Homo sapiens: one gene and its partners. The protein of the gene in region 1 interacts with the protein of each later gene in a biochemical or structural test. Each region holds a gene or a part of one and is shown on either strand. Other genes may lie near its edges.

Region 1 (4,924 bases):
ACCTGCCATCATGCCTGGCTCATTTTTGTAGTTTGTAGAGTCGTGGTTTCACCATGTTGGCAAGGCTGGTCTTGAACTCCTGACCTCAGATGATCACCCGCCTTGGCCTCCCAAAGCGCCAGGATTACAGACGAGAGCCACTGTGCCCGGCCAGATTTCACTTATGAAGATGACAGTACCTAGTTAGATGAAAAGCTCAGAAAACTTCCTTTTAAGTATTGAGTTTCAAAGTAATGTCATGTAGAGTTTTTTTTAATAGTTTAAAAAATGTATTTTGAGAAATCACTTATTCCTCAAAAAAATAACTAAAAATCTAAATAGTAATGATTTAACCCCATTACATTTTCTTTAGAGAATCATAGACTATTTTAAATATCATTCCTGATTGGTTGATAAAGTTTCCAAGAGATACAAGGGATGGCCTGACTTGCAGGCAGGGAAGGAAGGTGATGCGGGAGATAGGACGTGAGGTGAGGTTGCTGGCTTAGTGAGACACTATCAGGAAGAATTTGGAAAAGGAGGCATTTTGCTGTCCTGTGATAAGATGGGGTGAACTGCTGATCAGGGGGTTGAGGAAGGGGGGATTACAAAGGAATACAAGAAAGGAACTATGTGTAATATCTTGAAGAAAGTCAAACAGGTAATATTAGATAAGGAAACTTTCACAGAAGTAATTCAATATAAAGTTATGTAGTTGGTATATTTGGCAAAACCAAGACTAGAACTTTCTTCTGAATTCCTGTTTTAAAGTTCTTTCAGACAGGATCTTGCCACCATTCCTCAGTAACCCAAGTTTGGTCATTGTTAAATGTTAATATTAGAAAGTACCAGTACCTCATAGTAGCACCCTAAATTCTTATTAATCAAATGGGGTTGGCTTTTGAAGACATTAGTATTAAAAATAAGATATAAGATGGAATGAAAAATTAGACATGTTAAAACATAGATTAGCATTTTCTAAGCTCTTCTTGATATTCTCATGTTTAAAATTTATTTTGTTGCTTTGTTAAAAGAATTGTTTCACTAAATAATATACTTTGAATGAGTTAGTGGCTAGGGGGTTTGTTATGTTTTCCTAGTGGTAGTTAGGACCATTGTTCTTTAATGTTTTAATCTTGTGTATTAGGTATGGTGAACCGTGAAGTATTAGAACAAGTGGAGCGAGGATACAGGATGCCGTGCCCTCAGGGCTGTCCAGAATCCCTCCATGAATTGATGAATCTGTGTTGGAAGAAGGACCCTGATGAAAGACCAACATTTGAATATATTCAGTCCTTCTTGGAAGACTACTTCACTGCTACAGAGCCACAGTACCAGCCAGGAGAAAATTTATAATTCAAGTAGCCTATTTTATATGCACAAATCTGCCAAAATATAAAGAACTTGTGTAGATTTTCTACAGGAATCAAAAGAAGAAAATCTTCTTTACTCTGCATGTTTTTAATGGTAAACTGGAATCCCAGATATGGTTGCACAAAACCACTTTTTTTTCCCCAAGTATTAAACTCTAATGTACCAATGATGAATTTATCAGCGTATTTCAGGGTCCAAACAAAATAGAGCTAAGATACTGATGACAGTGTGGGTGACAGCATGGTAATGAAGGACAGTGAGGCTCCTGCTTATTTATAAATCATTTCCTTTCTTTTTTTCCCCAAAGTCAGAATTGCTCAAAGAAAATTATTTATTGTTACAGATAAAACTTGAGAGATAAAAAGCTATACCATAATAAAATCTAAAATTAAGGAATATCATGGGACCAAATAATTCCATTCCAGTTTTTTAAAGTTTCTTGCATTTATTATTCTCAAAAGTTTTTTCTAAGTTAAACAGTCAGTATGCAATCTTAATATATGCTTTCTTTTGCATGGACATGGGCCAGGTTTTTCAAAAGGAATATAAACAGGATCTCAAACTTGATTAAATGTTAGACCACAGAAGTGGAATTTGAAAGTATAATGCAGTACATTAATATTCATGTTCATGGAACTGAAAGAATAAGAACTTTTTCACTTCAGTCCTTTTCTGAAGAGTTTGACTTAGAATAATGAAGGTAACTAGAAAGTGAGTTAATCTTGTATGAGGTTGCATTGATTTTTTAAGGCAATATATAATTGAAACTACTGTCCAATCAAAGGGGAAATGTTTTGATCTTTAGATAGCATGCAAAGTAAGACCCAGCATTTTAAAAGCCCTTTTTAAAAACTAGACTTCGTACTGTGAGTATTGCTTATATGTCCTTATGGGGATGGGTGCCACAAATAGAAAATATGACCAGATCAGGGACTTGAATGCACTTTTGCTCATGGTGAATATAGATGAACAGAGAGGAAAATGTATTTAAAAGAAATACGAGAAAAGAAAGTGAAAGTTTTACAAGTTAGAGGGATGGAAGGTAATGTTTAATGTTGATGTCATGGAGTGACAGAATGGCTTTGCTGGCACTCAGAGCTCCTCACTTAGCTATATTCTGAGACTTTGAAGAGTTATAAAGTATAACTATAAAACTAATTTTTCTTACACACTAAATGGGTATTTGTTCAAAATAATGAAGTTATGGCTTCACATTCATTGCAGTGGGATATGGTTTTTATGTAAAACATTTTTAGAACTCCAGTTTTCAAATCATGTTTGAATCTACATTCACTTTTTTTTGTTTTCTTTTTTGAGACGGAGTCTCGCTCTGTCGCCCAGGCTGGAGTGCAGTGGCGCGATCTCGGCTCACTGCAAGCTCTGCCTCCCAGGTTCACACCATTCTCCTGCCTCAGCCTCCCGAGTAGCTGGGACTACAGGTGCCCACCACCACGCCTGGCTAGTTTTTTGTATTTTTAGTAGAGACGCAGTTTCACCGTGTTAGCCAGGATAGTCTCGATCTCCTGACCTTGTGATCTGCCCGCCTCGGCCTCCCAAAGTGCTGGGATTACAGGCGTGAGCCACCGCGCCCAGCCTACATTCACTTCTAAAGTCTATGTAATGGTGGTCATTTTTTCCCTTTTAGAATACATTAAATGGTTGATTTGGGGAGGAAAACTTATTCTGAATATTAACGGTGGTGAAAAGGGGACAGTTTTTACCCTAAAGTGCAAAAGTGAAACATACAAAATAAGACTAATTTTTAAGAGTAACTCAGTAATTTCAAAATACAGATTTGAATAGCAGCATTAGTGGTTTGAGTGTCTAGCAAAGGAAAAATTGATGAATAAAATGAAGGTCTGGTGTATATGTTTTAAAATACTCTCATATAGTCACACTTTAAATTAAGCCTTATATTAGGCCCCTCTATTTTCAGGATATAATTCTTAACTATCATTATTTACCTGATTTTAATCATCAGATTCGAAATTCTGTGCCATGGCATATATGTTCAAATTCAAACCATTTTTAAAATGTGAAGATGGACTTCATGCAAGTTGGCAGTGGTTCTGGTACTAAAAATTGTGGTTGTTTTTTCTGTTTACGTAACCTGCTTAGTATTGACACTCTCTACCAAGAGGGTCTTCCTAAGAAGAGTGCTGTCATTATTTCCTCTTATCAACAACTTGTGACATGAGATTTTTTAAGGGCTTTATGTGAACTATGATATTGTAATTTTTCTAAGCATATTCAAAAGGGTGACAAAATTACGTTTATGTACTAAATCTAATCAGGAAAGTAAGGCAGGAAAAGTTGATGGTATTCATTAGGTTTTAACTGAATGGAGCAGTTCCTTATATAATAACAATTGTATAGTAGGGATAAAACACTAACTTAATGTGTATTCATTTTAAATTGTTCTGTATTTTTAAATTGCCAAGAAAAACAACTTTGTAAATTTGGAGATATTTTCCAACAGCTTTTCGTCTTCAGTGTCTTAATGTGGAAGTTAACCCTTACCAAAAAAGGAAGTTGGCAAAAACAGCCTTCTAGCACACTTTTTTAAATGAATAATGGTAGCCTAAACTTAATATTTTTATAAAGTATTGTAATATTGTTTTGTGGATAATTGAAATAAAAAGTTCTCATTGAATGCACCTATTAATCGTTTTAGTTGCTATTCATATTCTCATTCGTTTTTTAAAAACTGATATATTCTGAATTTATTCTTCCATTGAGAAAAAAATGTTCAGTTACTTGTAACTACTGAGCAGAATTTAATCAATCCTTTATTAAATTCAGAACATTATTGAACTCATTCTTTGTGGTCAATTTTCTTTTTTTTTTGTTTTGTTTTGTTTTTTTTTTGAGACGGAGTCTCGCTCTGTCGCCCAGGCTGGAGTGCAGTGGCGCGATCTTGGCTCACTGCAAGCTCCGCCTCCCGGGGTCACGCCATTCTCCTGCCTCGGCCACCCGAGTAGCTGGGACTACAGGCGCCTGCTACCACGCCCGGCTAATTTTTTGTATTTTTTAGTAGAGACGGGGTTTCACCATGTTAGCCAGGATGGTCTCGATCTCCTGACCTCGTGATCCGTCCGCTTCGGCCTCCCAAAGTGCTGGGATTACAGGCGTGAGCCACCGCGCCCGGCCTGTGGTCAATTTTCTATGTCAAGTGAGTGACATTATTTTTACAAGTATTTTCTTCTTCTTAAAATTATACCAGCAAATACAGTTAATGCAGAAACCTAAGTAATTTGAGTGTAGCTATTCACAATCTATGTGAAGAATATAAAATAGAATGACCAGTTTTATTATAAATTAAGGGGCTTAATTTTCTAAAAAAGAAAAAAAATGAGCCTTATCTCTGTGTTTTATAATTATTATATAGGATAATGAAAATAAAATTGTCTAATACTAAATTTTGAATGGTCATTCAAAAGCATTTATTTTCAATAAGTTAATTACAAAATTATTAGCTTTTTCTCTGATTTCTAAAACACTTCATTTAGTAAACATTTATTTTTGTAGTATAGCAATAGTTCCTCAATTTAAGAATGTTTTTCTAGTTTCC
Region 2 (4,269 bases), on another chromosome or scaffold:
ACTGCAACCTCTGTCTCCCGGGTTGAAGTGATTCTCCTGCCTCAGGCTCCTGAGTAGCTGGGATTACAGGCGCATGCCACCATGCCCGGCTAATTTTTTTTTTTCTTTTTGAGACAGAGTCTCATCTCACCCCTGTTGCCCAGGCTGGAATGCAATGGTGTGTTCTTGGCTCACTGTAACCTCCGCTTCCTGAATTCAAGCAATCCTCTGCCTCAGCTTCCCAAATAGCTGGGATTACAGGTGCCTCCCATCACACCCAGCTAATTTTTGTATTTTTAGTAGAGACGAGGTTTCACCATGTTGGCTAGGCTGGTCCCGAACTCCTGACCTCAGGTGATCTGCCCGCCTAGGCCTCCCAAAGTGCTGGGATTACAGGCGTGAGCCACTGCACCTGGCCCTGGTATACAATTCTTTATCGTGCTTTTAGTGCATTCACAATGTTGTGAAACCAACACCACTGTCTGATTCCAGGACATTCTCAATACCTCGAAAAGAAAAGAAACCCTGTACCCACAGCAGTCACTCCCTATTCCCTCTCCACCCAAACCCTGGCAGCAACTAAATGACTTTTTGTCTATGGATTTATCTTTTCCGGATGTTTCATAACTGGAAACATACAACATGTGGACTTTGGGGCCAGCTTCTTTCACTGAGCACAATGCTGTCAAGCTTCATCTGTGTTGTGGCATGAATCACTCCTCTCCAGGGCTGACTAATGAGCCACTGTATTGAAAGAACCACATTTTGTTTATCCATTCATCAGTTGACAGGCATTTGGGTTGTTTCCACTTTTGGGCTATAATGAATAATGCTGTGATGAACATTCATATACAAGGTTTTGTGCAAACATATATTTTCAATATTCTTGGGTCTATATCTAGGAGCAGAATTGCTGGGTCATTTAAGTCTAACACTTTGAGGAACAGCTAAACTGTTTTCCTTGGTGGATCCACCATTTTGCATTCCTACTAGCAACATCTGAGGGTTCCAATGTCTCCACTTCCCTACCAGCACTTGTTATTATCTTTTTTATTATAGCCATCCTAGTGGGTGTGAAGTGATGTCTTATTGTGGTTTTAATTTGCATTTCTCTAATGGCTAATGATGCCAAACGTCTTTTCTCATGGTTAATGGCCATTTGTATTTGGAGAAAAGTCAATTCAGATCCTTTGTACATTTAGAAAACAGGGTTGTTTGTCTTTTCCTTGTTTCCTTGGGTTATCAAGAGGACAAAATGGAAAGATGTGAGTGACATTTACAGCCCAAGTCCAGGCATGTGGTAAGCACCCACCGAATGCTTTGCACACATAAAAATCATGCTGGTGCTGGGCAAGGTGGCTCATGCCTGTAATCCCAGCACTTTGGGAGGCCGAGGTGGGTGGATCACCTGAGGTCGGGAGTTCAAGACCAGCATGACCAACATGGAGAAACCCCATCTTTACTAAAAATACAAAATTAGCCTGCGATGGTGGCATATGCCTGTAATCCCAGCTACTCGAGAGGCTGAGGCAGCAGAATTGCTTGAACTTGGGAGGCAGAGGTTGTGGTGAGCCGAGATGGCACCCTTGCACTCCAGCCTGGGCAACAAGAGTGAAACTCTGTCTCAAAAAAAAAAAAAAAAATCATGCTGGTGATCAGGTGTGGTGGCTCACACCTGTAATCCCAGTACTTTGGGAGGCTGAGGCAAGAGGATCATGAGGTCAGGAGTTTGAGACCAGCCTGGCCAACACAGTGAAACCCTGTCTCTACTAAAAATACGAAAAATTTAGCTGGGCATGGTGGCGGGTGCCTGTAATCCCAGCTACTTGGGAGGCTGAGGCAGGAGAATTGCTTGAACCCAGGAGGTGGAGGTTGCAGTGAGCCGAGATCGTGCCATTGCACTCCAGCCTGGGCGACAGAGCTAGAATCCGTCTAAAAAAAAAAATCGTGCTGGCAATTAGTCTTTATGAGCTAAAAGTGACTAGTGACATCTCAGAAGCAGAGGAGTACAGGACCCATCTGTGAAGAACATTCCATACAGAGGAGAGAAGAGAATGGGGGCAGAGGATTGCTTAGGAAACTTCCTGGAGGCCTCTGGGGGATGCTGAGTTGTCACTTGAGGCCTCCTTGGAGGAAGCACTCAGAGAGATGGAAGCAGGAAGAGGACTGAGTGATGCCCCTGTGACGGAGGCTGCTGGGGACAGGGCTGGGAGCCTGGAAGCCAGCAGGAGGAAGGGATGGGGGCACAGAGGCACACAGAGTGAAACCAGGGGCAATGAACATGACATCAGGAAGAAAGGCAGGCATCTGAAGACCACTGGGCTCCAATTGAGGGGGTGGGTGCAGAGGGTACTGAAGTCCTGGGGCTGAGGACGATGGAAGGAGCACAGCATGTTCCATGACGGGGGTACTCAGGCTTGACAGGTGCGGCAGCACGTGGGGACCAGATTCTCTCCCCTGCTCACTTCAGGCTCCTGTTGTCCCCTTTCATTAGGAAAACACGATATTAACAAGTGCAGGCCCCTAACAGTTTGGGTTCAATACTTACTGTAAACAACCCCACGGAGGGCTGTCCCCGAGAGATCATTTGGGACCTCCCCGGAGCAGAGAGGCTTGCTGGACCACACAGCTGTCAGTGGCAATGGAGAAACAAATAGATCTGATAAACAGCAATGTCCTGTTCTTTAGAGTCACTTTAAAAAATGGTATTTATACAAAGCACAGAAAGTACAAAGCAAAAAGCAGAAAAGTAACCACCCCATCACTGAGACACTAGAATAACCATTGTTAATTCACTGGTGTATCTTCTTCTTCTCTCTACCTCCCTGTATGTATGTAATTTCCATTTTGTATATACATGTATTACATGTATATGTATAATTTTAGTCTGAGATTTCTAGCAGCATTAGCATTTTCCCATTTAGTTAGAATTTCTTCCTAAATATCATATTTTAATTTTAGTCTGAGATTTCTAGCAGCATTAGCATTTTCCCATTTAGTTAGGTTTTCTTCCTAATGATCATATTTAATGGATGTACAGGATTCTATTACATGATGTGCGACACTTCATGAAATGATTCTTCTATTATCAGATATTTAAGTTATCAACAGCATTTTGTTGTTATAAATATGACTGATGAAGGTCTTTTGCAGAAATGTTATAAACATGTCTGGTTATAGATTCCGAGGAGTGGAATTACTAGATCGAGGGACAGGAATGTTTTTAAGGCTCTTGATACAGAATGATACATTGCTTTCCAGAAATTTTTTTCCATATATGCACCAGTAAGCTGTACAAGAGAGTGCCCGCCTCATTCTAACCTTCCTATTCTGAATATTTTCATTTCAAAACACAATACATTGCAAGGTGAAGGTGGTGAATGTTCATTTTGATTTGCATTTGATTGTGGTCACGTTGAGCTTATTTGATAGAGTTATTGACCCTCATAATCCCTCTTTCGTGAATGGTCTGTTCAATTCTCTTTGCCATTTTTCTATCGAAGCTATAGTTTTTCTGTTATCTACTTGCACAAGTTTATATCACACTTGTTGCAAATATTTTCATTGTGATTTTCCTTTAAGTTTTATGATTTTTTTTTGACATTCAGGGACTGTAAATTTTTATATAGTGAAGTCTCTCAGTCTTTTCCTTTTTTCTCCCTTCGCTTTTCAATGCAGAGAATCCCTCTGCACACAGAAATTCACTTGTTTCTTCTTGTACAAGGCAGGTGGGTTATGACAGAGACTTTGGAGCTAATAGACTTGGGCTAAGGATTCAGCAGGTTTTTTTTTTTTTTTCGAGATGGTGTCTCTGTCTGTCACCCAGGCTGGAGTGCAATGGTGTGATCTTGGCTCACTGCAAACTTCTGCCTCCCCAGTTCAAGTGATTCTTCTGCCTCAGTCTCCCGAGTAGCTGGGATTACAGGCTCCCGCCACCATGCCCAGCTAATTTTTGTATTTTTTAGTAGAGACGGGGTCTCACCATATTGGCCAGGCTGCTTTCAAACTCCTGACCTTGTGGTCCGCTCGCCTCGGCCTCCCAAAGTGCTGGGATTACAGGCGTGAGCCACCGCGCCCGGCCAGGATCCAGCAGTTTATTTAATTCCACTGGGCCCTGGTTCCCCTTTCGAAAACCAGTGCTAAGAATACCTATGTGGTAATGTTGTGGGGCAGATTGGATGGAAAATATGTATCATGTTTTTAGCACAGTACTTGGTAAAAACAAATGAAGCAGTTATGGGTTTTTTACTTTTGTTTTTGTTTGTTTGTTTTACATTGAACCATTTAATC
Region 3 (4,269 bases), on another chromosome or scaffold:
AGCTCCTCTATAGAAGGCTGGATTTGGCTTTTCAGCTTACTCAAGCGTTTGTGTCTCATCTCACATTTAAAAATAACTCCTTTAGAAAACTAAGATCTAGACCAGGTGCGGTGGTTCCTGCCTGTAATCTCAGTGCTTTGGGAGGCTGAGGTGGGAGGATCACTTGAGCCCAGGAGTTTGAGACCAGACTGGGCAATATAGTGAGACCCTGCCTCTAAAGAAATGAACAGACAAAAACCAAAAAAGCCCCCACCCCCCGCACAAAACCTCAAAGATCCAGATTCAAATGAATGTCCAGTTTTTCCATGGTAACCATTATCGTCCACGGCAAATGTAACAGGCTAGTAAATGCCATATCATAGGTAATTAGTGTTCCTGAGGCTCAGCTTGGCCATCAGTAAAACTTGGGAGGTTTGCTTAGCCTGCTGGAAGTGGGAAATATGTTCTTCCCCACCATTGGGGCCACCATCTGTCCTTCTACAGCGGTCCCAGCTCTTGCCTCAAACACTCGCTTTTTTCTTTATTTTTTTCTCTCCCCTGGAAGAATGACCAGGGCTGAGTTCTTAGGTCTTAGAGTTAATAGGGAGAGGCCATAAGAAGAAACAGAAGGACTGTTGAGATTCCCCCAGCTTGGAGGCCTGGAAGAATACCAGGTAGAGAACAGAGTGCTAGGGAGAGGAGCGGAGTGAGAGTGCCGGAGAGCTCAAGAAAGAGCAAAGTGAGATCCCCAGTCTGCAAAGCAGGGATGGACCTTTCCCCTTTCCCCTTTCCCATCAGGCTGGGAGTTGTCCAGGAGAGGCAGGGCCTAGAGCAAAAGGAGCCCACAAGGCTCAGAGGCTGCACAACTCCTATCAATCTCATGGTGGGTACAGGGTCTGGAGATAGCGTGGCTTGTGTCTGTCCTGCCACAGCTACTGGTTTTTAGAACCACATCTTAGTCCCATGAAACAGATCTGGGAGCACAGGGTCAGGAGGTAGAGTCATCGTGACAGCAAATCCCTTGTCAGCACATACTTTATGCCAGGCCCTGTTCAAAGTGCTTTAGATGTATTAACACACTTAGTCCTCAGACAACCTATCATCACCTTGATTTGTAGAGGAGGAAACAGTTAAGAGGTGACAGTGGAAACAGAAGGCTACAGAGGCAGTGCCCCATGCATGGGAGTATGAGTGTGGGCTCTGTAGCCAGATTGTCTGCTCTGGCCCCAGCTTGCTGTGTGACTGTGGGCAACTTCGGTCACTTCTCTGTGCCTTTCCCCCCAACTCTCAGGAGAATGGTAACAGCCCCTGCCTCTGAGGATTAAAATGAGAAGAGGCAGGTGAAGCACCAGGTCCCATGCCTGGCCCCTGGGCACAGGCCAGCATGGGCTGGAAAGGCAGCTCTTGGTGGCAATAGCATTTCCAATTTGGGGACCCAGCTTCTTGCCTCTGCTGGCAAAAGTCGCTTGCCCCCTTTATTGTGCTCCTAGCCCCAGGGAGCTTGACTGTTCGGTCTTTCTCCTGAACACTTTCTCCAACCCCACCTAGGTAATTGGTTGGGTATGATTTGCATGACCCCAATAATTAAGAATTCTCCCTCTGAGCCAGCTGATCCAGCTCTGGGACAACACAATCAGTCTACAAAAATGTACCCAATTGAAGACAAAACAAAACAGAAAGGCTCACAATGTTAGACGGTGACACGTCTCCAGGCTGAGGATCTTGCCTGCTAGTGAAAGAGTTCCCGTGTTGATGCTGGGGCTTCACCGAGCTAGCTGCAGAAGTCCATGCAAACAGATGGCAACAGCCCTATAATAAAATCAAACCAAAGTGCTCCTGAACTGCAGACCAGGGCCCGAGCCCCAGGTGGCCTGCCGTGTCCTATGTGCTTTGCCTATCTCCACACCGCTCCCCCGGCCACCCCCATGGGAGCTCTGCTTGCCGCATGGTCTATCAAACGACCAACTCCCTGGTGTCAAGCACTCTGCATGGTTATGCTCCAGGAAACCTGGATGGAAAAGACACAACCTCTGTACTCTAGGGGTTGCCACAGGTGTGCTCATACAGAGCTCTTAAATAAGAGGTCAGCCCTTGACAGGTGCTTCCCTTGGGCCAGGTCTCTGGCCAAGCACTTTATAATCTCCTCCTTGACCACTCTCCAGAAGAGGGAGGCACAGTGGGAAATGGAAGTACTGAGGACAGTCATGGAAAAGCTTCCTGGAGGGATGGTGCCTGAGCCCTAAGTAGCTGCAGGTGTTGGACAGGAGAGAAAATGTGGGAAGGGATGACCAGGCCCAGGGAACGGCCAGAGTAAAGGCTGAGACCAGATGGCGTGGGCCAAGTGCTGCAGGCACTTCTGGGTAATAGAAACAAAGTGCAAGGCAGGGCCTGATGGATGCTGAAGGGCCCAGGAGGCTGGTGGGGCCAGCTTATGGGCCTCTGGGGACTTCTGAGCAAGTGTAAAACATGATCAGGTCACTGTTTTAGCAAGACGACTCAGAGCAATGGATGGTTTATTGGGAGAGACCAGTTAAGGGTCAACTGTATGAGTTCAGATAAAGAATCAAGAGGACCTGAACTTGGGCAAGGATGAGAGGAATGGGAAGGAGGGATGGTAGATGGTGACTGAGTATTCTGTGTAGGCACATGTGTGACCTGGCCCCACTGAACCCTGCCTCCTGGTATTTACACCCTCATGCAATCTCCTCTGGCTTACATCTCATGAATAGAATACAGCAAAAGTGGTGGGATGTTACTTTCTAGACCAGGTCATAGAGACTGTGACTTCTGACTTGCTGGCACTATCCCTCCTCCCTCTCTCCCCATTACCCTGCTTCACTGGCACACTCTCTCATGCTCACTCAGATGAAGCCAGCTGCCATGTTGTGAGATGCTCTGTGAAGAGACCGTGTGGCAAGGAACTGAGGGAGGCCTCTGGCCAATAGCTCATGAGAAACCGAGGCCTCAGTCCAACAACCTGCAAGGAACTGCTTCCTGCCAGCAACCACATGAGTGGGCTTGGAAGCAGATCCTTCCCCACTGAGCCTTGAGATGACTGCAGCCTTAGGAGATACTCAGCCAGAAGACTCAGTTAAACCATGCCAGGATTCCTAACACCCAGAAATCAGGATGTGGTGGTAACGTATGCATATGGTTCGAAGCTGGTGCTTGGGGTAATTTGTTATGCAGCCACAGATAACTAATACAGGCAGGGGTCACAGAAATGAAAACTGGGAACTGTGATAGACACGACCCAGGTGGAATCAGCTGCATTTCATGATTGAAAAGCCTGGAGGAGATGAGGGAGGGTGAGAAGTCAAAAGTAATTTCAAGAAGAGCACAGGCTCTGGAGTGAGACCACCTGGCTTCAAGTTCCTGCTCTGTCCCTTGCGAACTATGTGACTCTGGGCAAGTCTTTCAACTCTCTGAGCCTCAGTTTCTTCATTTGTAAAATGGAGATGATGAGAGTGACTACCTTGCAAATACCTGTCTTTTTCCTTTCACGACCTGACTGAGTATCCAGCACAGTGACAAATGGCATGCTGAGGTTGCTCAGCAAAAGTTTGCTGTGGCATTTCTAGAAGGCTCAGTGTTTGTCCTTCTGCCAGCAGGGATAAGATTAAATGCTTCAGTGCAATTTCCTTACATCTTAAGAAGGATTCACTAGTCTTTCTACATGGCCCAGTGCAGGGAAGGCATTTCTGTATTCGGACTTGTCCCACCTGGCTCCTTCCACCGGGAGCACCTTGTGGGTGCAGCTCTCCTTCTAGGGAAGTTAGGTGACTTGAACAGGCACTGAAACCATAACCTTGGCCTTATTAACACTGTGCTTTTAACCACACAGGATTAGCTGACTTCAGTAGACTTTTTCAGAGTCTTTTCCAGTCTCAGAGAGAACTATAGCCTGGATTTACCCTCCAGAGCCAGATATTGGCAACATGAAACACAGTTGTTACTTCCAAAACAAAAGAACACAGCCAGATATGAGATTGTCTTACCTGTCTGGGCAGAGCAGGCATGGAATCTGAGGCCACTGATCGCTGAAAACGCTGGGGTTGCTGCATCATCTGCTGCAGAAGGAATGAAGAATGGTCAGGCTGCTGCTGCTGTTGCTGCTGCTGCTGCTGCAGCTGCAAGGTGGCAGTGGCCGTGGAGGAGGCAGTGGCTGAGGAGGCCTGCGTTGGTGTCGGCTGCTGCAGGTAGTGGAGCAGGGAAGGCTGCCTAGAGGTGGTAGGCATGGAGGGCATCTTCTGGGGACCCGGCTCAGAAACAAAATGGGACAAGGGCTTG
Region 4 (3,200 bases), on another chromosome or scaffold:
TGTATTTTTTTATGGATGTGGAGTTTCTGTTGCCCAGGCTGGACTAGAACTCCTGGGCTTAAATGATTCACCTACCTTGGCCCCCCAAAGTGCTGGGATTGCAAGCGTGAGCCACTGTGCCCAGCCCAAGGATAAATATCTTCTTTTTTTGGGGGGGACAGAGTCTTACTCTGTCACCCAGGCTGGAGTGCAGTGGCATGATCTCAGCTCACTGCAAGCTCTGCCTCCCGGGTTCACACCATTCTCCTGCCTCAGCCTCCTGAGTAGCTGGGACTATGGGCACCCGCCAACACGGCCGGCTAATTTTTTGTATTTTTAGTAGAGACGGGGTTTCACTGTGTTAGCCAGTATGGTCTCGATCTCCTGACCTCGTGATCCACCTGCCTTGGCCTCCCAAAGTGCTGGGATTAATTACAGGCGTGAGCCACCGCACTGGGCCCCAAGGATAAATATCTTTATGTTATTTTTTTATTATGCAAAATAATTCTATGTGTGTATTGTATTCTGTAAAGAAAGTAGAATCTCTCTATATACTGTTCTTTAGTCTCTCCCCACCACATATTTACTGTATCACGAATGTATTCCCAAGTCCTTAAACTTTTTTTTTTTTGAGTCTTACTCTGTTGCCCAGGTTGGAGTACAGTGGTGCAATCTTGGCTCACTGCAACCTCCGCCTCCCAGGTTCAAGCGAATCTCTTGCCTCAGCCTCCTGAGTAACTGGGACTACAGGCACGGGCCACCACACCCAGCTGATTTTTTTATTTTTAGTAGAGATGGGGTTTCACCATGTTGGCCAGGCTGGTCTCGAATTCCTGACCTCAAGTGATCCGCCCACCTCAGCCTCCCAAAGTGTTGGGATTACAGATGTGAGCCACAGCGCCTGGCCCAAGTCCTTAAACATTTTTATTTTTATTTTTTATTTATTTTTTTGAGATAGAGTCTCACTCTGTCTCCCAGGCTGGAGTGCAATGGCACGTTCTTGGCTCACTGCCAACCTCTGTCTCCCGGGTTCAAGCAATTCTCCTGCCTCAGCCTCCTGAGTAGCAGGGACTACAGGTGCACGCCACCACACCTGGCTAATTTTTGTATTTTTAGTAGAGAGGAGGGTTCACCATGTTGGTCAGGCTAGTCTTGAACTCCTGACCTCGTGATCCACCCGCCTCAGCCTCCCAAAGTGCTGGGATTACAGGCGTGAGCCACCATTCCTGGCCAAACATTTTTAAAAACATTTTTTATCTTATGGATGTACCCTAGGATACTTAACCAGTTCCCTATTGATGAAGATTTTTCTTCTATAAAATAATGTGGCACTGAGAATCCTGGTTGATAAATCTGTACGTATTCCGAATTATATTATTAAAACAAATTCTGAAGATTAGAATGGGTCAACGGTATATACATTTTAGGGCTTTTCAACAGTATTATAAAAATATCTCCAGACAAGTGGAACCAACTTATTCTCCATCAGTAGTGTATGAATGCCTATTTACCAAAGCTGGTTGGGCATTCAATTTTTGAAATCCTTGGAAAAAAGAAGGCCAGGGATAATTTTGAAGTTCTTGGTCCTCAGTCAGAGAAAGATGATTTCTTTTTCTTTTTTTTTTGAGACAGAGTCTTGCTCTGTCGCCAGGCTGGATGGACTGCAGTGGTGTGGTCTTGGCTTACTGTAACCTCCGCCTCCCAGGTTCAAGCAATTCTCCTGTCTCAGCCTCCCGAGTATGGGAGCTGGGACTACAGGCATGCACCACCACGCCCAGCTAATTTTTGTATTTTTAGTAGAGATGGGGTTTCACCATGTTGGCCAGGATGGTCTCAATCTCTTGACTTTGTGATCTGCCCGCCTTGGGCTCCCAATTGCTGGGATTACAGGTGTGGGCCACGGTGCCCGGCCTGAGAAAATCATTTCTTACATAAGGTGATCACCTCATGTTCTACTGCTCTGTCCTTTCCTCTGTTCTCTTGTCACACTGGCATCACTGCCGTTCGTCAAGCATACCAGGCACAGCCCAGCCTTAGGAACTTTGCACACATCTCCCCTCTGCCTGGGACACTCCTCCCCCAGATATCTGCATGGCTAAGTCTCTCAACACCTTCAAATCTTTGCTCCAATACAACTTTGCAATGAAACCCACCCTGATCTCCCTATTTAATACTCACCAGTCATCATGGCCACACTCAGCACACTTGATCCCTCTTACCCAGCTCTATTTTTTTGTTTTTTTTTTGAGACAGAGTCTCACTCTCTTACCCAGGCTGGAGTACAGTGGTGCCATCTTGGCTCACTGCAACCTCCGCCTCCTGGGTTCAAGAGATTCCCCTGCCTCGGCCTCCCTAGTAGCTGGGATTACAGGCGTGCACCACCACACCTGGTTAATTTTTATATTTTTAGTAGAGATGGAGTTTCACCATGTTCGCCAGGCTGGTCTCAAACTCCTGACCTCAGCTGAACCACCTGCCTCGGCCTCCCAAAGTGCTGGGATTACAGGTGTGAGCCACCACACCCAGCTGTTTTTTTTTTGTTTTGTTTTGTTTTTTTGTTTTTTTTTGAGACAGAGTCTCACTGTTGCCCAGGCTGGAGTGCAACGGCACGATCTCAGCTCACCACAACCTCTGCCTTCTGGGTTCAAGTGATTCATCTGCCTCAGCCTCCTGAGTGGCTGGGATTACAGGCACGCACCATGATGCCCGGCTAATTTTTGTATTTTTAGTGGAGAGGGGGTTTCACCATGTTGGTCAGGCTGGTCTCGAACTCCTGACCTCGGGTGATCTGCCTACCTCAGCCTCCCAAAGTGTTGGGATTACAGGCGTGAGCCACTGCGCCCAGCCTCCACTTCTTTTATACCAAAGCACTTACCATTTTCTAGCATCCTATGTGACTCACTTATGTTTACTGCTTATTGTCTACATCCTCCAGCTAGTATATAGGTTCCATAAGTACAGGGTTTATTGTCTGTTTTGTTCACCTAGTAGATGCTTAATAAATATTTACAGGCTGAATCAACGTCATAAAACATGGCAAGCACAGTCCATGGAAGATACCAGTACTGGAGGGGCTCCCACTACACTGTGCCTTGTAGGCTCTGTACCTGGTTCAATTTCTTGAACTCCACCACTTGGAAGAAGACGTGCTCAAGGATATGTTTGGCATCCTGTTGGTCCTTTGGTAGTTTACTGGTTACTCCAAGAATATCACCACACTT
Region 5 (4,269 bases), on another chromosome or scaffold:
TCAACACTCAACAACTGGATACTGATATTCTCAGTATTCCCTAAACTGTAAAAATGTGGATATTAATTTTCCTAAACTTTTGAATAACTGCTTCATTCTATCATTAATAGTTCTACCTTGAACATATATATTTTGAAATTTTATTAACTTTAAAACAGAAAAATACCTTCTGACCTTTACATATATTTATCTTTCCATTCTTTGTTTCATTATCAAAGATCTTCTCTCAGTCGTAATACAGAAATTTGCTTACAGCTACAAATTGACAGAAAAGTAATATTAGTTTCTCAGGACTTTAGCCGGTATTGCAAAAGACTTGACATGGATTGCAATTCAGCTCATCATAGAGATTGTGATTCCAAAATTTAATTTCATAACTCATAATCAGCCACAAAAACATTACAACAGAATATGAGAAACATTAAAAGGCAATTTCCTCATTGTTGACTACTTATTAATTTACAACTTAGTCGAATAAAATTAAAACAACCAGTATGCTTTCTGGTGACTGGTAAAATGACTGTTTTACAAATTTCAAATAAATGTATTCAAATGCATTTGGTCTCTGTAATAAAAGTGGGACATAGATATTGTAATAAGACTTTTTTTATTTGAAAAGGAAAAATAACCAATTCTACTGGAAAATTCAAGCATCATTTATATTATGTTTTCCTATCATCACTAACTAGGCTTCTTCAAAGTCTACAAAATCATAATTTGAAAGAACATATTTTTTCAATGTAATAGCTATTATGAAACTATTTTACAGCTGTGAATGTTCTATTAGAACAAAAAATGCTCCATAGAATACATACATACCAATAGGAATGCACAAATCAAACTTCTCTTTCTGTGATTATTTTTTAAAAATTGCTTGAGTAGGGACAAAGAGGGTTGTAGGAAGATTTTCAGGAAAATGACAGAGATGGCACTGATTTTTCGTTCAGCTTAATCATTTATTTCTAGCAAATTCAATTCCCCAGCCTTTTACAGCAGTTACTTTCAGGGACCAACAGGCTGGCATGAAATTAAATTAACAAGCAGATTCCCATTCTGAATTAGTGACTCCCAGCTGTCTGTCCCATCTAGTTTCCATGGCAGTAGCACAATCAGTGGAAAATGAGGTACAGGAAATTTTAAGAAGCCACTGTATCAAGCCCCTTAAGTCAATTTCTTTAAGCTGATGAATCAGTACAGTGGGCAGGGGTGGGGGCAGGGAAGGGGGAGTAGGGTGTAGAATTGAATTTAAAGTTTTTAATTTCCTGCCTTGCTGAAAAGGTCAGTGTGTTTCTGTTTCTGTAATTGTTGTAGAATGCAAGCAACATCTCCTTATACATTTTATAGAAGGCTGTAGATTCACGATGGCATTTAGTTCATTGGGCATTTTATAGTAACCCAAGAGTGTTTAAGATATTTTACATGTATTTTAAAGTGTTTTATTTTATTTTTTCTTTCTCTTTTGACATGGATATTAAGGGTCATCGGCCTGTTAAGTGACTCCAAAACACCCAGAAACTAGGTAAACAATTTTCTCAAACAACCAGATGTTTTTCACCCCAAACAGTTGGATGGTTAACAGAATGGTGCAGTCACATATTTGGGTGTCACCTAGATTCAGTCATAGAAATTTGTCATAAGCACCCAGAGAAAAAGTATTAACCTTGGCACATATCTACCATAAACAGAAATATAAAGGCTCCCAGGTAAGAACTTCATAGGGGATTATCCACCCATGTGAAAAGAGATTTTTAACATGTTTTTATGTGTCCATTTTCCAATTAGCTTCTCCACTCTTACAGTTAGAATAGAGCGGGGGTGGAGAATCCAATATTTCAGAATCATTACATCACATTAAAAACATCATCCAAGAGGTAGTGGTTAGTTGGCATATATGCATGTTTCACCATATGCTATTGTTTACCTAAAGTGGAGGCTCGGACAGGAAGTACAATTTAGAATAATTTTTTAAGTTGTAAATTATCCAAGATTATACTTCCAGGCCTTGAAATGGGTCCTGAAGTTACATAAAAATCTAATAGACTTCATTTATTAGACTCTAAGTTACTATTTTAAAATATTAGGGATCCATGTCACCTGTAAAAATATTTACTTTTCAAATTTAAATTAGCTTAATTTCTATACAGAAATGTTAGCATTGCAATTGATATAAATATTGTTATATAATAATTTTCAGTCTATGCCATCATATTCCAATTTCCTCAGCCCTATTTTTCATGGGTTCCAAATGTAAGCAATTTTGCTGGTCTTGCTAAATTGTACCACAGCACGTCTAGCAAACTACAAAATCTCTATACATTATATAAATTGCCATAACAGAGCACCGAATACTGAACAGACACCTATGGTTGGTCATCAAGGTTGTTAAGAATAATTAAAAGCTGTGTGAAGCCTTTTATAGCATTCACCTGCTCAAACTAAGCATGGTTCTAGCTGGTTATATTTGATATTTACTTTCCTCTGTTCTAAAAAAAATCAATGGAAAACAGAAAGGAATAAAAATAATATATTAAGCCAGGATTCAGAATATTTTTACCTTTTAGGGGAAGGAAAAATAATAGCAATCTCCATTCAAAGTAGTGATTTAATCTAACACTCAGAAGCTGTAGAAGATTTAAAGAAATTGTGGTATATGTGAGCATTTCTGAAATTTGATTCCTTTTAATTTTTATAATCAGCAGTTACACTTCCAGTCGTGGGTATATGCTGTTGGTCACAATTGCTAAATTCTGTACCTTACAATATTTTTCATCTGCCTGTAGTCATACTAGGAATCCAGTTTAAACCTTTCTTCTAAATGTTAAGTGATGGGAAGCTTTTTAAGTACGCATGGATTATTAATTTTGTGGTTAAAATCCACAGCAATTTAACAAATATATATAATTTTAATAAAGCTATTGTACATGTTTTATATCTGATTCAAGGCATTCACAAGCAATTGCTTCCGTGTGTGTGTGTGTGTGTGTGTGTGAGAGAGAGAGAGAGAGAGAGAGAACAAATATGAGTACTATAAGAAAATTTGTTTTCATCAAAAAAATTAATCACTGACTCAGTTATTCAAAGTACTGGTCTTCTTTTGACCTCTGGTCATTTATAAGTAAGTAAATAAATAAATGCATAAATAATAATAATTAACTTGTTTTGGGAAACTTTAGGGAATTTATTAACCATAATCTATACCAACTACTTGATAGCTTTACTTAAATCTGAAACTGAATGACTTAGGAAAAGCAAGCTTCAAGCAAAAATTATATGGACTCCAAATGTCTATCTCTAACATAGAATATGAAAAATGTTTGTTTTATTAATTAACACTAAAATTTCTTACTACTTCCAAGTTTTTAAGGCTGTCACAGAAAATAAATTTCCACTAAGTTTTCTGTTTTCAGAAACAACATATCAGGAATGTTTTGCAGTTTGACAATTTAAAGTAATATTGTATAGAATAAACTTGAATGCTAGACTGTTCTGCTTCAGCAAGAATCTTTCTGGTAAAGGTATCAGAAAGGATCAATGACTATGAGGGAAACTATGATTATGTCGGTGTTATTTACACATATAATAGCTGAATTGAAACACTGAGAATTCTAGGGTATTCAGACTGAATTAGGCCTTTGAATGTGATGATAGTTATGTATAATACAATTTTATTTTAATACACCTAAACGTTTGAATATTTGAAATCTTAATCACCTTTACAGCACAATGATTCTACAAAGCATTCTTTCCTTTAGCCTCACTGTATATTTTGTCAAATGACATGACTGTCCCTAATTCATAATTGGAACCTAAACCTAATGGAAAATACTACTTCATGTATGCAAAAATATTTGTGGGGTTTTTTTCTGCTATGTATAGCTGACATTGTTCTCAGGACTGGACTCTACTAGTTTTATTATGAAAATGTTAACATTTCTTCATAGAGTTGTTTTATAGAAACACCTGTTTTTCAGAAACATTCTGGGGAACAACCTGAAAACTTTTAAATAATATTTAGAGCATGGATTTATTTTAGGAATTACCTGATCCCTTTTTAAATGCATATTTCGACTTTCTTTAATCATGAAAAGTTTTCAACATTATTTTGTCATACCTGAAAGCTTTTAATTACTCTTAAAAACCCCAACTTTGCCATAGTAAATTATTTAATGCATCACAAAATAGTGTTATGAACTTGAACTAAAATGGCAAAATTGGGATTCTGTTTCTCCAGTTATGTACTTTGAGGGTCTTACTATGCCTTATGAAAAT
Region 6 (4,269 bases), on another chromosome or scaffold:
GGAGCAGAGCAGCAGGTGCTGGCCCCTCGTGCAGGCTGCTAAGCAAATGCAGATGGGGCTATTTCAGTCTCCAAACCTGCTGGCCACACGTCACAGATCTAAAGAGAAGGCAGAATCTGTTTTTGTCCATATTAGGCCTGAAACTCACTCCTGTCTCTTTCCCTCTCCCCCGCCTCCCCTAAAGCCCCAAGTGATTAAATCAAGTATGTGGGATTTGGATCAGAATCATTGTGTCCAATCTGCAGGAATGCCGAGCTAGTGCCAGCCCCCTTGGCAGAGACCCAGCCCAGGCCCTCTCTGAGCACGCCAGGACAAACACGCTCTTCCCTGGGGGCAGCAGCCCCACTACAAAGGAGCAGCTCTGCTCCATCTATGTTCCAGCAAAGGCAGCCTTCGCAACACTCCTTCCAAGCCTGGGAGGCCCAGGCGGCCAGAGGCATGCTGGCCTCTGCCTGGCTCACCACCTGGCATCACTCCTGTGCATACGCCCTTTGCCCCTCCATGGGCATTCTACCTCCCCACGCCCCCTCTCCCCAGTCCATCCTCTGGGGGTGATCCAAGAGTACAAATTGGTGACAAACGACTTCCCTTCTGGTTCTGTATGACCTTGGGCAAGTCATTCTACCTCTGAGTTTTGACTTTCCAATCTATGGATCAGGGATAATAATAACCCATGGGCTATTGTGATCATTTTCTTTTAAAAGACATACTTGAAGCATCTAGCTTGGAATGTGACAGGTTCTAAACAACATTTATTCCCTCTTATTCCCTTGGCCCTTCCCTCCTGTGTTGAAAGTCCAATCTCCTGTAACAGGCCATCTAAAGTTCCTCGAGAGGGAGATCCATGTTAAACTCATCTTTATATGAGCACGTGCCTGACTCTCAATAGCACGTGCCTGACTCTCAATAGGTCAGGGCTTCTGATAAGGGATGATAAGTGTTTCTGAATGAATGAATGGCCGGCCCCAAATCCTTCCTTCAGGGCTCCTGCCCCCTTCATCTACCCCTAGACTGGTATCTGGGGAGGCTTTCTCTTGCTAAGGCCTGGAAACCCCAAAACATTGTCAACAACCCAGTAGCTCCAAGCTGGGAGTGCAGCAGGGGCCAGGCTCTGAGCCTCTACCCAATCTATTTCCCAGGACTAATGGGAAGGGAAATGGTGAGGGACTTCTCTTTACAAAATGGCTAACATTTTCAAAACCTAATCCCTTTCCCCTAGATTCAAGGTATCTCTCTCAGATTCCCAGAGAAGGTATGTCTCTGTCCCTGCCCAATCTCCAGCCCCACCACACCACAGAAAGGCCTCCTCCCCACTACAGGCTGGCCAGGTATGGGGGTGAGGAAGGTTGTCCCTCACCTAATCTGATGCATATACACATACTGCTGGGGGCGATTCGATCCTGCAACCAGAGACCAGCAATCAGAGCCCATGATCCCAAGGGAAATGACGAAAAAGTAGAGAAAAACTAAAAAGACATGAAAACCCACTCCCTCCCCTTACTCCAGATAACCTCCGATCCTAAGGCCCCCTCAGAAGCACCACTCTGAGCCCTGCTCTCCCAGGGTAGCCTCACCTGTGAAAGTGTGTGTGTTGGCAGGGGGTTCGGGGTGGCCTCAGGAAGCATAACATAGGATTTCATACAAGCTAAAATTGCAGAAGGGCACACACACACACACACACACACACACACACACACACACACCCTGGCCTATCCCCTGCCTGCTGGCCTGAGGACCGAATGGCCTCACTCACCAGTAAGCGCCTGCAGTAGCCAAAGCGTCTGCTGCCATCTTCCCCAGTCAGCATGAAAGAAAAGGTCTCACTGGAACAAAGAGAGGTCTGGCATCAGGGAGGTGTGAGAGGACCTAGGAAACAGCCCCCAAGAATAGGGACCGTCATTTTCACGTGGGGTGAAGGGCCAGGTTGCTGTAGGAGAGGATGAGACTAGAGCAGGCCCCACTCAGGTGCCCACGCTATGGGGGTAAAGAAGGCTATGCTCCTTCCTCCCTCAGGCCAGGCCAGGCCTCACCTGCTATACTCTGACACAGGAAGCCAGTCCTTGGCATCAGGGAAGCAAAACTGGGGAATGGCTTTGAGCCTTTCCTCTGCCTCTCGCATCTGCTTGGTGGGTCGGTCCAGCTGCAGGGAAGAAGGAACCAGGAGATGACATGGAACCTGAGGGCGGGTGGTGGTGGCTGAGAAGCCCCTCCTCCCCTGAGGGCCCTAGATGCCACTGACTAGCGGGCATGATCTCAGCAACCCTTGTCCCACTCCGAATTCTTACAGAGCCCAGAGTCATCATTCATTCATTCAATAAATGCCAGCGGAGTGCTTTCTATATGGCATCTGACACGGTGCTATGCGCCAGGGCTCTTGGCTCTCAATGGAAAACAAAGGGGACAAGGTCCCCGACCTTACACATTCTCGTCAGCAGAGTGAGATGGTCAACCACAACATCTCAGAGCGGGGCTTAAAAAAAAAATAAGCAGGGTGGCCGGGCGCGGTGGTTCATGCCTGTTAATCCCAGCGCTTTGGGAGGCCGAGACTGGCGGATCACCTGAGGTTGGGAGTTCGAGACCAGCCTGACCAACATGGAGAAACCCCATCGCTACTAAAAATACAAAATTAGCCAGGAGTGGTGGCGCATGCCTGTAATCCCAGCTACTTGGGAGGCTGAGGCAGGAGAATCGCTTGAACCCAGGAGGCGGAGGTTGCAGTGAGCCGAGATAGCGCCATTGCACTCCAGCCTCTGTAACAAGAGCGAAACTCCGTCTCGAATAAAAAAATAAAATAATAAGCAGGGTTATGTACCAGAGCAAGCTGGGCAGGGGAGGGGCTCCATGCAGGTGTCTGGACAGACCTCCTGAAAGAGGTCCTACTTGAGCAGAGCCTGAGAAATGAGAAGGAGCCAGCAGCCACGTGAAGAGCTGGAGAAAGCACATTCCTGGCAGAGGCAATGGCAGAGAGAGAGGGGTTGAGTGTGAGAGGAAGAAGAGGGAGGCCAGGCTGGCTGGCGACAAGCAGGGAAGGCGGAGTGAGAGACAGGCTGGTGGGAGAAGTGCGGAGTGACAGCTAGTGGGTGCAGAGTTTCTCTTTGGGGTGATAAAAATGTTCTAAAATTGACTGTGGTGATGATTGCACAATTCTGTGAATACACCCAAACACTGAACTGTATACATTAAGTGGGTGAACTGTATGGTATTCAATTGTTCTGGATTTTATTATAAGCACATTGAGAGGTTCTTTCTTAGTCCTCATCCTTTGAACAAGCACTGGCCCAAACCCACCCCCGCTGCAGCCCTGTCTTCCCTCCTGGCTGAGAGGAGGCAGGTTCAGGGCTGTGGCAGCTCGGTGAGGACGTATGACGAACAAGATCTCTCTCCTTCCCCAGATAGGCCTGGCGGATAGAGGATGGAAGAGGGGGAATATGGGCAAGGTGGGGAGAGAGAAGGCCTCACCTTGGGAAACTGGTAGGAGACTTCGGGGAGGTAGGTGTTTCGCGATGGCTTCTTCTTGAGGGACACCACCACAAAGTACTCAAAAAGCTCCCGCTCCTGCCACTCCAGCAGCTCCAGCTCCAGCGTGCGATAGCTGGGGGCGCGCTTCAGCATCGACTGGATGTGGACCAGGCGCTGTGTGTGGGCTGGAGGCAGGTTGCACATCAGGGAATGGACCCTCACAGGCCTCATGTTAACTCCTCTACCCCTGGCTCAGGGCTCCATTGCTGTGGAGCACTTTTAAGTACGTGAGCCTAGTCTGATACCATCCCCAGCTCACAGTGCAGGAGGACCGGCAGGCACAAGGTGCTGACCCCTGCACAAAGACTCTGCCCTGACACAGGAAGCTGCGGGCCTGGTCCTCCTGGAGCCTCTGGAGACTGAGCTGGGGCAGGAGGACTGCCGAGGCCAGGCAAACCCAGGGATGTATCTTGGCACCCACTCTGTCCCTGTACCAAAAGGACTAGAATACACGAACATCCACGAAGGCTTCATCCTTGGGCCCCTAGCAGGACATGCTCCTACATCCAAAGTCCACTTGCCCATTTGCCTGGGGATGAGAGGATAATCATCCAGGAAGGCCTAGGCAGGGTTTCCCAGTAGAGAAAGCACAAAGATTTATCCAAGGACCCTGGAATGTGAAGGTTCCAGAACCTTTTCAAGCTCCTCTCTGGGGACAGGGGAGATGGGGGACTGCAGGGCCTCCAGAGAAACAGTTTCCTCAGTCTACGGCACATTTCTTGCCAGAAGAGGTCCTTGTAATCTTCTGTA
Region 7 (4,994 bases), on another chromosome or scaffold:
CACCTGAAGGCTTTGAAGCTGCATCTTTGGGGTCCCAGTTATAGGAGACTTCTTTGTCTAGGCCCCTCCCCAGGAACTTTCCAGGTAACATTGGCACATACTCACTGTTGTCATTCTGTCCCAAAGGTGAGCTCCGAAAAGGGTTTGGTAGAGAGAAGTAGGAGCTCCAACTTTTGGAGGAAGAGCCACCCTGAGGATTTCTGGGGTTTTTTGGAATTGCACCGGCTCCAGGAGCCATAAACATGTAGTCACTCTCACTGTCATTGTCCTTTGAGTCATCCTCTTTATTAGTATCAGGTGCTTTTGGAGGACTCGGAGCAGGTGGTGGGCTCACTCTGGGAAACATCATCATGTACCCTCTTGAATCTTCAAAAGGGGATCGAGAGTGGCGCTTTTTTGAAGCAGAGACATTTTGAGGAGCCATTGGCATATAATCACTGGAGCTTACAAGAGGGGTGGCCACCCCTGGCCTCATTGGCACGTATGGGTCATCCTCATCTTCATCAAAAGCTCTGGCTCTGTGGGGACCTCGAGCTGCACCTTCTGGGATCTCTGCATCTTTCACTTCTTTGGCTTCTTTGCATTCTTTCGTGGCTCCTCTGTCAACACAAAAATAAAGTCTGAATCTTCCCCCAGACTTCCCTTTTCCACCAGTTCCTCCAGCTGGTGGGGGTGGAGGAGGAGGTGGTGGAGGTGGTGGCATTTGCTGTTGCTTGCTTTGAGTTAATTTGCCAAAATAGGATCTTTTCTTCAGAGATTTTCCACGTTCACCATCACCATCGGATCCTTTCCCACTTCCTGAGCCTTTGCCCCCCCCAGAGTTCTTGCCACCACCTGAGCCATGGCCATCTCCAGGTCCCTGGCCACCACCTGAGCCATGCCCACCTCCAGGTCTCTGGCCACCACCTGAACCGTGCCCACCTGCGGTGCCCTGGCCATCTCTAGAGCACTGGTTTCCTCCTGAGCCCTGGCCATTTGAGCCCTGACCACCTCGGGATCCCTGTCCCTCGCCTGAACACTGGTTTCCTCCCGAGCTATGGCTACTGGAGCCTTGGCCATTTGAGCCCTGGCCACCTCCTGAGCCCCGGCCATTTCCTGAGCCCCAATTGTTCATAGGCATGTAGTCACCTCCGCTTCCTTCCTGATCTTCTTTGCCCTGGGGATTGCCTTCCTCCCCAAAGTTGCCAGAGCCAGAACCAGACACTTCAGAAGACAGGCGAGCTCCATTGTTCGGGGCTTCTGCAGGGTGCCGGGGACGTGCTGGGCTGGGTGCTAAGCGGCGAAAAAAGCTGGCCGGCACTGAAACCGCTCTCCTTGACCTGCGCCCTCTGGGCAGGTGCAGTCTTCCTCGCCTGGAGTGGGCCACAGGCTCGCTGGGTGTTACGAAGCGCCTGGTGAAAAGCATCTCGTCTTCCCCGTCGCCGATGGCCCTGAGGTGGCAAAACTGCTCAAAGCGGGACCTTCTGAGCCAGCCTCCCGGCTCGAGCGGCACCAAGCCCAGGTGCCTCCTAGCGGACAGCAGGGTTAACAGGTGGGCGCCGATGCTGATGCTGTAGCTGCGGCAGCGGGCTCTGTATTCGTCTGCACACAAGGCTCTCATCTTCTCCAAAAACAGCTCATGCATGTTTTGGGCAACCACACAGTCATCGACCTGCATCCAGAGCTCTCCCGGACCGATGACAGTGGACCTGCCTACTTCCAAGAAGAAATACTGCTCCGAGTGTCCACAGCGACGGATGCTCAGGAGCTGGACGACCACGCTGGCCACTTCGGTGTTCAGCCTCACAAACACGACCTCCTCGTCGGTTAGACACAGCCGGAACACGCCGCTCAGCTCTTTTCTGTGCCCCAGCCCCCTGGGTTTGACTATTACCTGCCACACATCTTTATAGAAGGGTGGCTCCGCCGCCGCTGCCGCCGCCAGCGCGGCCGGCTCTCCGTCCGGCTGCGCGCCGAGCGTGCCGCAGCGGCGGCGCTTGCTCTCGAGGATGAGGCGGCTGAGCAGCAAGTACCAGCTTTCCTGCTCCGACTCGTTCTCGGCCACCATCGCGAAGTATTCGTCTTGGGTGAAAAGAGCAATGAGGTGTCGGTACCTTGCATCTGCTCGCTGGCTCACGGAAAAGCACTGGTATAGGGTGATCACGCGCCGCGGTGGAATGAGCGGGGGGATCGCGGCGCCAGAGGCGGCCGCCGCTGCTGCAGCCGCCGCGGCGCGGACACTGTGCCGGAACTTCCTGGCATTTTCGTAGTATTCCAGCCGAGCTGGGGCGTCAGCAGTCTCGAGTTTGAGCACGAAGTAGCGCCTGTGCCCATGCTTCTGTTTCCGCAGGTAGCCGCGTTTGCAGACTTCCTCCCCGACGGGCAGGTCCTCCTCTTCGGACTCGGAGTCTGACCGGGAGCCAGTGGCCGTGGAGAGCCACATGGCTCCCGGACAAGACGACCCGGTCCCAATGAGTGCGGTCGGGGTTCCCGAGGAAAGAAGCGGGGTGGTCACCACTGCTGCTAGAGCTGCCGCTGCCGCCGCTGCTGCACCTCTTAGTCTTCTTGTCGCTTGGTCGCGAGTGAAGGAGCAACTCGCCATGGTGATGCACGATGGTTTTAAGGTGAGCGAGGAGGAGGGGGAATTCAGGAAAGGGAGGGTTGGGGGAAGAGGCTGTCTACCCTCGTCTGCCCGCCCCAGCCCCCTCCTGCCTTGGCCCGCGCCCCCGCCCACTCCACTCTGAGCGCACGACAGCGGGCAAAACAACACGTGACCACAGCCTCACGCGGCGGCCGCTGCGGATCCTGCTACCGGCGCAATGGAGGGGCGCGAGCGGCCACCAGTAGAGGTGAGCAAGGGAGGAGACGGCGGGCTCGGGAGGCGGAGCCACCTCCGGCTGTGCCAAATCCTCCCGGTCAATCTCCAGGCCTGTGGGCCAAGGGAGGACCGAGAGGAGGAGGCGGGCTCTCTGGCCAAGCTGATTCTAACAGGGAGTCCAGGAAGGCATGAGGGGGCGGGAGAAGGCCTGGAGGGGCGGAGGAGAAAGCGGCCGGCTATCAGGGTCGGGAGAGGGCGCCACAGTCGGGGCCCCATTGGTGGGAGGTGGTGGGAGGGGGCGTAGCGCAAGCAGTGCCTGCCTGCGGCGCCAGGGTGCAGAGCGGGCACAGTCGCGGGACAGTTTGTTTGTTTATTTGGGAAGCGGGAGCCAGGTGAAACTGTTGCAAGGCTCTGATTGGTTGGGATAGGAGCCAATGGGAGGGTCCGGCAAGAAGGCAGCCCCGAAATCATTAGTTTGGCGGGAGGGAGGGGTGAGAGGGGAGAGGGGAGAGGGGGCGTGGCTGGGGTCCCAAAGTGGCTTCGCTGTCGGCTTGTGGCGCTCTCAGGCGGTAAACAACCTTACGCAAATAGCTGTTAATGGTGGTGGTAAACTCGTGCAAATCCCAGAGCCGTGGTGACCCGGGATGGAGTCGGGTGCCCTGGTACTCCCTGTCAATCACATAAATTCTCTGTTCCTGTCACAGTCTGGTTCATTCTTTCCAGCCGCACAAGGCGGCGGATCGAGCTTCTTGGGAGAAAGTGTCGGCACCCCCTGAAAACGGGTTGACGACCAGGGCGCTCAGAACTGCTTCCCACCGCTCTGCAGGCACTCCCGAGCCCGCTGCACCCCTGACAGAAGCCCGCGACTCTGAGGCACACGAATAACAGCGATGCATTCAAAATGAACATGATCTTTATTAATCAGAATGCACTTCTAGCCCACGAAACACAGGTTCCCTAAATACAGTGTTTCTGCCTATTTGATTAACGATGACTATGAAAGCACAAATTTGGGGGCCTGCAATGTATACAGCCATATTGGAAAAAATTGGACTCGATTCTTACTGAAATAACCAGTGTTGGGCTGTGAAGGTATTTTTCTGTGGGAAATGCTTTGGAAGGTGCCTTTAAAAGAATCTCAAAATATTGCTTTCCTTTCCTTGAGCGAGACCGAAAAACTTTAGAAAAAGAAAAGCTCATACCTAGAACAAAGGACCACGCTGAATGCATATTCTAGAGCACATTTCACATCCCTCGCGTCAACAAGAAGAAGAAGAGGAGCTTTGATGCATTTCAGTCTACAAGTTGACATCACAAAAGTAAGAACTACTGCCTCCCTCATTTCTGGAAAAACTGCCGGAGTGTAAGTGCAACCTCCTCAAGTCTCTCTCTCTCTCTCCCTCTCCTTCTCCCTTTCCCTCTCCCTCTCCCTCTCTCCCCCACCACCCCAGTTATTACTTGACTAGGATTTTAGACTCTTAATGGTGGAGATGGGTCGTGAATTATCAAAGGAGTGACCAGGTTTGCAAAGAGGAATGGAGGGAGAGGAGGAGAGAAATACAGCATTTCTCTCTGAAAGAATGGAATGTCAGTTCACCCTTGCTCTAGGGTTGATATGGCAAAGGGTACTATTTATAAAATCCAACAGTAAACTAGGCAATATGTATATCATAAAAATAAACCATATTTCTGCCCTCTTAAGAATTTGCTCTGTTAGAAACAGAACACACGTATTTGAATAAATGGCTCCTTTTTGATGCTATAATTTAAGAGAAAAAGAAATTGGTTTGGGTTGTCCCCCAGATATTACAAATATTCAATAACATTCCCTCTGCTGCCAATGGTTTATAAGTGCAATATATTCACAGGTGCTGGAAGCAGCCGTGGTTTCGGAAGGGAGCTAGAGGCAGAACGAGTGTGGATGCTGAGAGATCCCTGACTGTGACTGCTACATATTTCAGCTGCGTAGTCACATATATACAAGATTCCCTGCACTTACAACCAAAATGATAACAAATGCTCTCATTTGGGATTTTGTTTGATAGTCATTAGGATATTTTATAAGTCTTTCCAAGCACAAGGTTTTTTTCTTTTTTTTTTTAAAGAGAAATGTGACAAATAAGGCAACATATTTGAAAGTGCTTTGAGTAATAACATGACATTGAAAATATCAAAATGAATATTAAATGAAATGGGA

Evidence for each region.
Region 2: the proteins of YES1 (region 1) and INPP5D interact in a surface display test, tested with the Homo sapiens proteins (one large-scale study listed by IntAct).
Region 3: the proteins of YES1 (region 1) and MAMLD1 interact in a surface display test, tested with the Homo sapiens proteins (one large-scale study listed by IntAct).
Region 4: the proteins of YES1 (region 1) and IFT52 interact in a surface display test, tested with the Homo sapiens proteins (one large-scale study listed by IntAct).
Region 5: the proteins of YES1 (region 1) and TENM1 interact in a surface display test, tested with the Homo sapiens proteins (one large-scale study listed by IntAct).
Region 6: the proteins of YES1 (region 1) and DENND2B interact in a surface display test, tested with the Homo sapiens proteins (one large-scale study listed by IntAct).
Region 7: the proteins of YES1 (region 1) and IRS4 interact in a surface display test, tested with the Homo sapiens proteins (one large-scale study listed by IntAct).

What each region holds. Positions count from the first base shown.
Region 1 is NC_000018.10:720,835-725,758, reverse strand, and holds the end of YES1 (tyrosine-protein kinase Yes), read left to right. Parts: intron 1-1,126; coding exon 1,127-1,335; 3' UTR 1,336-4,171; downstream 4,172-4,924. UniProt on the Homo sapiens protein: Non-receptor protein tyrosine kinase that is involved in the regulation of cell growth and survival, apoptosis, cell-cell adhesion, cytoskeleton remodeling, and differentiation.
Region 2 is NC_000002.12:233,066,681-233,070,949, forward strand, and holds part of INPP5D (phosphatidylinositol 3,4,5-trisphosphate 5-phosphatase 1), read left to right. Parts: intron 1-4,269. UniProt on the Homo sapiens protein: Phosphatidylinositol (PtdIns) phosphatase that specifically hydrolyzes the 5-phosphate of phosphatidylinositol-3,4,5-trisphosphate (PtdIns(3,4,5)P3) to produce PtdIns(3,4)P2, thereby negatively regulating the PI3K (phosphoinositide 3-kinase) pathways.
Region 3 is NC_000023.11:150,471,199-150,475,467, reverse strand, and holds part of MAMLD1 (mastermind-like domain-containing protein 1), read right to left. Parts: coding exon 3,978-4,269; intron 1,789-3,977; coding exon 1,666-1,788; intron 1-1,665. UniProt on the Homo sapiens protein: Transactivates the HES3 promoter independently of NOTCH proteins. HES3 is a non-canonical NOTCH target gene which lacks binding sites for RBPJ.
Region 4 is NC_000020.11:43,642,511-43,645,710, reverse strand, and holds part of IFT52 (intraflagellar transport protein 52 homolog), read right to left. Parts: coding exon 3,087-3,200; intron 1-3,086. UniProt on the Homo sapiens protein: Involved in ciliogenesis as part of a complex involved in intraflagellar transport (IFT), the bi-directional movement of particles required for the assembly, maintenance and functioning of primary cilia. Required for the anterograde transport of IFT88.
Region 5 is NC_000023.11:125,197,667-125,201,935, forward strand, and holds part of TENM1 (teneurin-1 isoform 1 precursor), read right to left. Parts: intron 1-4,269. UniProt on the Homo sapiens protein: Involved in neural development, regulating the establishment of proper connectivity within the nervous system. May function as a cellular signal transducer.
Region 6 is NC_000011.10:8,709,092-8,713,360, forward strand, and holds part of DENND2B (DENN domain-containing protein 2B), read right to left. Parts: intron 3,645-4,269; coding exon 3,460-3,644; intron 2,141-3,459; coding exon 2,031-2,140; intron 1,867-2,030; exon of another isoform or gene 1,824-1,866; coding exon 1,754-1,823; intron 1-1,753.
Region 7 is NC_000023.11:108,733,764-108,738,757, forward strand, and holds the start of IRS4 (insulin receptor substrate 4), read right to left. Parts: upstream 2,801-4,994; 5' UTR 2,582-2,800; coding exon 1-2,581. UniProt on the Homo sapiens protein: Acts as an interface between multiple growth factor receptors possessing tyrosine kinase activity, such as insulin receptor, IGF1R and FGFR1, and a complex network of intracellular signaling molecules containing SH2 domains.